Homo sapiens: one gene and its partner. The protein of the gene in region 1 interacts with the protein of each later gene in a pairwise test. Each region holds a gene or a part of one and is shown in the gene's direction. Other genes may lie near its edges. The genes, in order: LARP4 and PRPF39.

Region 1 (3,826 bases):
GCCAGGCTGGTCTCGAACTCCTGACCTCAAGTGATCCACCAGCCTCGGCCTCCCAAAGTGCTGGGATTACAGGTGTGAACCACCATGCCTGGCCAGGATATATCCTTTGATTATTTGATTAAGTATATTTATCAATTTTTCTTCCTTTAAACATACTGCATCCAGCATTTATAAATGTTTAACATGTAGTTTGTATATAATTCTCATTTATATCTAACATGAATAGATTGCCACTAATTTCAAGTAGTAGCCGTGTTTTTGGGTCCAGCATGCAACCCATCTATAATAATTATATTTATAAATTAGTTTTTATCTACCATCATTGACTCTGCTATTTACTCACTGTTCGACCTTGGGCAAATAACTTAATTTCTCTATGCTTTTTTCCCTCCATCTGTAAAACAGAAGCAATCTTAATTACAGCACAGGATTTTCTGATAATTAAATGAATAAAGTGCATGGAGTAGTCTGATACATGGATAATGCTATATACGTTTTAGCAATTGTTGATCATTTTAGTTTATCTGTAATTGTCAAAACTTATCTCCCTCGGAATGATAACTCTTGCTTAAAACCATGCGGACATATTTCAAACTGGTAGAAATCCTTAAAATCTTTTTATAGGTGACATACTGCCCAGAGTTCCTGAGAATAGAATTTAAATAATTCCCATTTACTTTCAGTGTCTGTCTTTAATACAGGTAATGCAGAGCTCTCAGAAGATATATGTAAAGAATATGAAGTAATGTATTCTTCATCTTGTGAAACCACAAGAAATACTACAGGCATTGAAGAATCAACTGATGGGATGATTTTAGGACCAGAAGATCTGAGTTACCAAATATATGATGTTTCCGGTAAACTTTATGGTTTTATTGTTAAAATGAGAATTCAGTACAGGACACCCCCCACCCATGGTCTCTTTATACTTGTTCTGATAAACCTATGGCATTATTTTCTTATTTGAAAAGAAGGTTACGTTAATGAAATGTTAGTTGATTGTTACATTGTTTTCAGATAACATGACTTTTGTAATGTTAAGATTGTTTATGAGGGTTCTATTAAAGGAAAGCGTGAAATTAAAGATAACAGAAAAAAAGGCGGGGTGGCTCATGCCTGTAATCCCAGCGCTTTAGGAGGCCCAGGCGGGCAGATCACTTGAGGTCAGGAGTTTGAGACTAGCCTGGCCAACATGGTGAAACACTGTCCTATACTGAAAAAAAAAAATTAGCTGGGCATGGTGGCATGCACCTATAATCCCAAGATCATGCCACTGCACTCCAACCTGGGTGACAGAGTGAAACTGTGTCTGAAAAAAAAATTTTGTGTGTCTATATATAAACAACTGCCTACTTTGAACATAGAGTTGAAGTGATATGGTAAGCAATTGGTGTTTTTTTGTTGTTGTTTTTTTGTTGTTGTTGAGAGGGAGTCTCGCTCTGTTGCCCAGGCCGGAGTGCAGTGGCGTGATCTTGGCTCACTGCAATCTCTGCCTCCTGGGTTCAAGTGATACTCCTGTCTCAGCCTCCCGAGTAGCTGGGATTACAGGCACGCGCCACCACACCTGGCTAATTTTTGTATTTTTAGTAAAGATGGTGTTTCACCATGTTGGCCAGGCTGGTCTCAAACTCCTGACCTCAAGTAATCCACCTGCCTTTGGCCTCCCAAAGTGCTGGGATTACAGGCGTGAGCCACCATGCCCGGCCTTTAAGTGCTTTTAGTATTGTGCATTGTTAATTTTTTGATAAAGATAACCTTAAACTAATATGAAATGTATCTGATGAAAGAATATCTAGATTGACAGAAATTAGTTAGACTTTGAACTGTCCAAATTATAAAAATAATAAAAAATACAGTTTGGGCCAGGCACAGTGGCTTATGCCTGTGGCCAAGGTAGGAGGATTGCTTGAGCCCAGGAGTTTGAGAACAGTCTGGGCAACATAATGAGAGCCTGTCTCTACAAAAAAATAAAAATAAAAAGTTAGCTGGGTATCATGGCACAAGTTTGTGGTCCTAGCTACTCAAGAAGCTGTGGTGGGAGGATCATTTGAGCCCAGGAGGTTGAGGCTATACTGAGCTGTGATCACACCACTGTACTCTAGCCTGGGCAACAAAGGGAGACCCTGTTTCTCTGAAACAATAGCTTTGTGGTGAATTTTGATTGTAGATACTTTGTGGCTTCTGAGTACAACAGTATGTCAGATTTATCACCTCTACTAACATGCTATTAACTTTTTTTCCCTCTTCTTTTCTACCATCAGGAGAAAGCAATTCAGCAGTTTCTACAGAAGACCTAAAAGAATGTCTGAAGAAACAATTAGAATTCTGTTTTTCACGGTATTGCTGTTTCCCCTTTATTGAATTTTATTAGTAGATGTAAAATACGTGTGAAATAGAGCGCAAGGATGGTGATTATTATTTAACTAATTTTTTTTTTTATTTTCTTGAGACAGAGTCTCATGTTGTCGCTGGGCTGGAGTGCAGTGGTGTGATCTCGGCTCACAGCAGCCTCCGCCTCCAGGGTTCAAGAGATTCTTGTGCCTCAGCCTCCAGAGTAGCTGGGATTACAGGCGTGCAGCCACCATGCCCAGCTAATATTTGTATTTTTAGTAGAGACAGGGTTTCACCATGTTGGCCAGGCCAGTCTCAAACATGCAACCTCATGTGACCTGCCCTCCTCTGCCTTGCAAAGTGTCGGGATTACAGGCGTATGGCACCACACTCGGCCCCTTGTCTAGATTTAAAAGTGTAGGGTCGGGCGCTGTGGCTCATGCCTGTAATCCCAGCACTTTGGGAGGCTTCGGTGGCTGGATCACCTGAAGCTGGGAGTTCGAGACCTGCCTGACCAACATGGAGAAACCCCGTCTCTACTAAAAATACAAAAATTAGCGGGGCATGGTGGTGCGTGCCTGTAATCCCAGCTACTTGGGAGGCTGAGGCAGGAGAATCACTTGAACCCCGGAGGCGAAGGTTGTGGTGAGCTGAGATCGCACCATTGCGCTCCAGCCTGGGCAACAAGAGCGAAACTCCATCTCAAAAAAGAAAAAGTGTAGTCTCCAGTCTGATATGCAGAGGATCTATTCTTAATATAAAGATAATGAAGTTTGCATTGGATGTTTTTTCTATGAACATACTCAATTTTGGAATTGACAAAAAGTTATTTCTTAATGCATGTTTTAATAGTTGATTCTTGTAATGTTAATCATAGAGTCATTTTTGGCAAAATAGTAAGGAGTTGGACAGATAATTTATATTGCCAATGTCTTCTCTTAAATAAGGAATCCTTTCAGGCAAACATTTGGAGAAGTCTTATTTACAGATAAGAATAATGGGCCAGGCGCAGTGGCTCATGCCTGTAATCCTAGCACTTTGGGAGGGCAAGGTGGGCAGATCATGAGGTCAGGGGTTCAAGAACAGGCTTGCCAACATGGTGAAACCTTGTCTCTAATAAAAAATACAAAAATTAGCCAGGTGTGGTGGTGGGCGCCTGTAATCCCAGCTACTCGGGAGGTGGCAGCAGGAGAATCACTTGAACCGGGGAGGTAGAGATTGCAGTGAGCTGAGGTTATTCCTGGGCTCCAGCCTGGGCGGCAAGAGCGAAATTCCACCTCAAAAACAAGGAAACAAAAACATTCATGTAATATTTACTTTAGCCTGTACTTTGGGAGGCCAAAGTAGGTGGATCACCTGAGGTCAGGAGTTCAAGACCAGCCTGGCCAATATGGCAAAATCCCATCTCTACGAAAATACAAAAATTAGCGGGGTGTGGTAGCGTGGCCCTGTAGTTCCAGCTACTGGAGGCTGAGGCAGGAGAATTGCTTGAACC
Region 2 (3,826 bases), on another chromosome or scaffold:
CCACTGCACTCCAGCCTGGGCCAAAGAGCAAGACTCCATCTCGGGGGGAAAAAAAGGTCTTTAGTGCAGAAGAAACTGGACCTGTTATCCCTTGACTCCATGAGTGGCACAGTGATCACTTATATAACTGGCCATTTACCCAGTGACTTGTAGCTTGTTTGAAGTTAATTTCTGATTAAGGCAAGTGGGGATTCAGTAGCTTGTATGTATAGATTTAAGGTAGAGAATCTATTTTACTACAAGACACCCCAAAAAAAACTTAGCTTAGAAGGAATATTTTGCCTAGGTTGTGTATCTACTAGCCCAATTTAAGAAAAAAAGAAAAAATATGAAAGTGGTTAATTAGGAAGTTGTGTGATAAGTTTTAGTGTTGTTAATTGGATTTTGCACATAATTGCCAACAGTTAAAAATCTACCACTATTCTAAGACTAAAATATCTGTGAATAATACTTAAATATAAGCAGTGATATTGAAAATTTTCAGTATACAGTTTGTGAGATTTATTTTTTTCCCTTTTTCTTCCCAAGCTAATTACAGAAATAGAAAACATGAGACATAGAATCATTGAGATTCATCAAGAAATGTTTAATTATAATGAGCATGAAGTTAGTAAAAGGTGGACATTTGAAGAAGGTGTAAGTGTTTTTGTTTTGTAATAGTCTTTAAAATACAAAGTAGGAATAATTTATTTTTCTTTCAATTTTGATAGTACTATCTCTGTTGTAACTTTATTTTTGCATATTTAAGCCATAACTTCAGATGTTTGTCTCATTTATTGTAATCATTATCAGTTTTTCCATTTTCCCTGATGAGTTTTAGAATGTTTGAATCCAGATTTACTTGAATTGCAAGATATCTGCTTAATCTGAACAATTTTATTCTAATTGTTCAATTTTTAAAAGTCAACTTCTTGGGGTTATACTTTACATACATTACAATTCACCCATTTTAGATATATAGTAAAATGAGGTAATTTCCCACAGTTTTAATTCTTTGGTTTTTTTTGACTGCTTTACTGAGATATAATTCACATGCCATATAATTCACCCATTTAAAGTATACAGTTCAATAGTTCTTAGTATATTCACAGATATGTACAACCATCACCACAGTCAATTTTAAAACATAATCACCACCTCAAAAAATAACACCTTAACTTTTAGTTGTCACTACCCCTACCTCCTCAGCTGCGACCCTCTACCCCCAGTGCTAAGATACCACCAACTGCTTTTTGTTTCTGTAGATTTCCCTATAATGGCCTTTCATATGAATGGAATCTTAGAATATGGAATCATTTCACAGATATATGTATATACATTGTAGTCATCACAGCAATCAAGATACAGAACTCTTTTAGCACTCCAAAGGTCCCCTTGGCCCCTTTCCAGCCAGAGTTCCCCTCTCCACTCCTAGCACTAGGCAGCCATTGATCTGCTTTCTGTCACTATGGTTGTTCAATTTTAAAATATTCAACAAAGTATAAAATGTTCTGTACATTAAAAAGCATGTAATTGGCAAAATGGCAGAATAGAGAGAAAATGTATTATTTCATTTGTTTGTAAAGCTTAAGGAATTTAAGGGTTAATTTTAAAAGTTTTTTAAATTATGAAATATGATTAAAAATTTTAATCATCAATTATATTTAAAATTATTTGTATTAACACTGTACATGTGCATATTTTGGTGATATTGGTTTACTTTCATTGGCATGTTACAATTTCATTTCAGATTAAAAGACCTTACTTTCATGTGAAACCTTTGGAAAAGGCACAACTAAAAAACTGGAAAGAATACTTAGAATTTGAAATTGAAAATGGGACTCATGAACGAGTTGTGGTTCTCTTTGAAAGATGTGTCATATCATGTGCCCTCTATGAGGAGTTTTGGATTAAGGTAAGAAAATCATGTGCTCTTAAACTTGAATATATTATAAACATTGATCTAGTGACTAACCTTTTTTGTACTTCTGTTGAATGTTGTTCATATAACTATATCTGTTGCATTAGGAGATGGTCTGCTTGCAACCAGATTTGACTGCTGCATATGCCAACCTCGTTGCCTCTCTTCGTCCTTCCTTACAGAAACTAGTCTAGTGGTTCAATAAAGGTGCTGAATGGGTTTAAAAATAGAATTTTATCGTTCTGTCACAAATTTAATGGCTTGTTCAACTGTAAATTATTCAGTATTTCCTCTTTTCTGTATGTAGTATGCCAAGTACATGGAAAACCATAGCATTGAAGGAGTGAGGCATGTCTTCAGCAGAGCTTGTACTATACATCTCCCAAAGAAACCCATGGTGCATATGCTTTGGGCAGCTTTTGAGGAACAGCAGGGTAAGAGTGGAGAAATTCAGTTGACATTTTTGAGATTTTAAGTTATTTCAGGAAACAGTGACAAATTGAGTGGTAAGGGATGGTGTAAAGCAGAGTTTGGCAAACTTTTTCTCTAAAGGGCCAGATAGTAAAAGCCACGTGTTCTGACTTTCAGGCTTTGTAAGCCATTGTAGCCCCGAAACAGCCATAGGCAGTGTGTAAATATGCATGGCTGTTTCCCATTATTAGTTGCTGGATTTAGCCCATGGGTGATTGTTGCCAGTATCTGGTTATAAACGTTATTTTGGTTGTTTAAACCAAAGCATAAACATTTAATTACTGTTTCTAGGTAATATTAATGAAGCCAGGAATATCTTGAAAACATTTGAAGAATGTGTTCTAGGATTGGCAATGGTTCGTTTACGAAGAGTAAGTTTAGAACGACGGCATGGAAATCTGGAAGAAGCTGAACATTTGCTTCAGGATGCCATTAAGAATGCCAAATCAAATAATGAATCTTCATTTTATGCTGTCAAACTAGCCCGGCATCTTTTCAAAATACAGAAAAACCTTCCAAAATCAAGAAAGGTGCTTTTGGAAGCAATCGAAAGAGACAAAGTATGCATTTGTATTTTTAAGAGTATCTTCTATTAAAAAAACCAGTGGTCAGTGTATTTTCACTGTGGCAACTGTGATGAAAGATTTGGTCTGTATGTAATAGATTTTATTACTAAATGAGGACAACAGTCCCTCTAAACTGATGTTGCCATTTAAAAATTTTTTTCAAATTGTTTTGAATTAAAAGTTTTAGACATTAAGATTATTGGGTTAAAATTGTTGTAGACATTGTGATACTTTATATTTTCCCTTTAGAAATTATCAACAAATTTACTGATTACTAAGTAGAACAGAGGACTTGGGAGAATACTTCATAAACAAAAGCATAGGCGTTGCCTATGTTGTAAGCACATTTAGAAGTGAGATGATTTTGCTTCTCCATAGAGTACTTTTTATATTTTTTATATATCAATTGAAAAAGGCAGTGTATAGGTAATAGGTAATTTCTCAAGTTTTAGGATTTTAGTTATTGCCAGGTCTGTTTAAGATACAGATTTATAGCAGTTTGCTTCTAGCTGCAGTTTAAGATGTTTATCTTTTTTTTTTTGAGTCTGTCGCCTAAGCTGGAGTGCAGTGGTGCCATCTTGGCTCACTTCAACCTCTGCCTCCTGGGTTCAAGTGATTCTCCAGCCTCAGCCTCCCGAGTAGCTGGGATTACAGGCATGCATCACCGCGTCCGGCTGATTTTTGTATTTTTAGTAGACACAGTTTACTATGTTGGTCAGGCTGATCTTGAATTCCTGACCTCAGATGATTTGCCTGCCTCGGCCTCCCAAAGTGCTGGGATTACAGGCGTAAGCCACTGCACCTGGGCTTTTTTTTTTTTTTTTTTTTTTTTTTTGAGACAGAGTTTCATTGTCATTGAGGCTGGAGTGCAGTAGCGTGATCTCAGCTC

The links.
Region 2: the proteins of LARP4 (region 1) and PRPF39 interact in a two-hybrid assay, tested with the Homo sapiens proteins (one large-scale study listed by BioGRID).

Annotation. Positions count from the first base shown.
Region 1 is NC_000012.12:50,428,234-50,432,059, forward strand, and holds part of LARP4 (la-related protein 4), read left to right. Parts: intron 1-683; coding exon of another isoform or gene 684-701; coding exon 702-857; intron 858-2,261; coding exon 2,262-2,337; intron 2,338-3,826. UniProt on the Homo sapiens protein: RNA binding protein that binds to the poly-A tract of mRNA molecules. Associates with the 40S ribosomal subunit and with polysomes. Plays a role in the regulation of mRNA translation.
Region 2 is NC_000014.9:45,107,887-45,111,712, forward strand, and holds part of PRPF39 (pre-mRNA-processing factor 39), read left to right. Parts: intron 1-528; coding exon 529-636; intron 637-1,729; coding exon 1,730-1,894; intron 1,895-2,207; coding exon 2,208-2,334; intron 2,335-2,662; coding exon 2,663-2,931; intron 2,932-2,988; exon of another isoform or gene 2,989-3,089; intron 3,090-3,826. UniProt on the Homo sapiens protein: Involved in pre-mRNA splicing.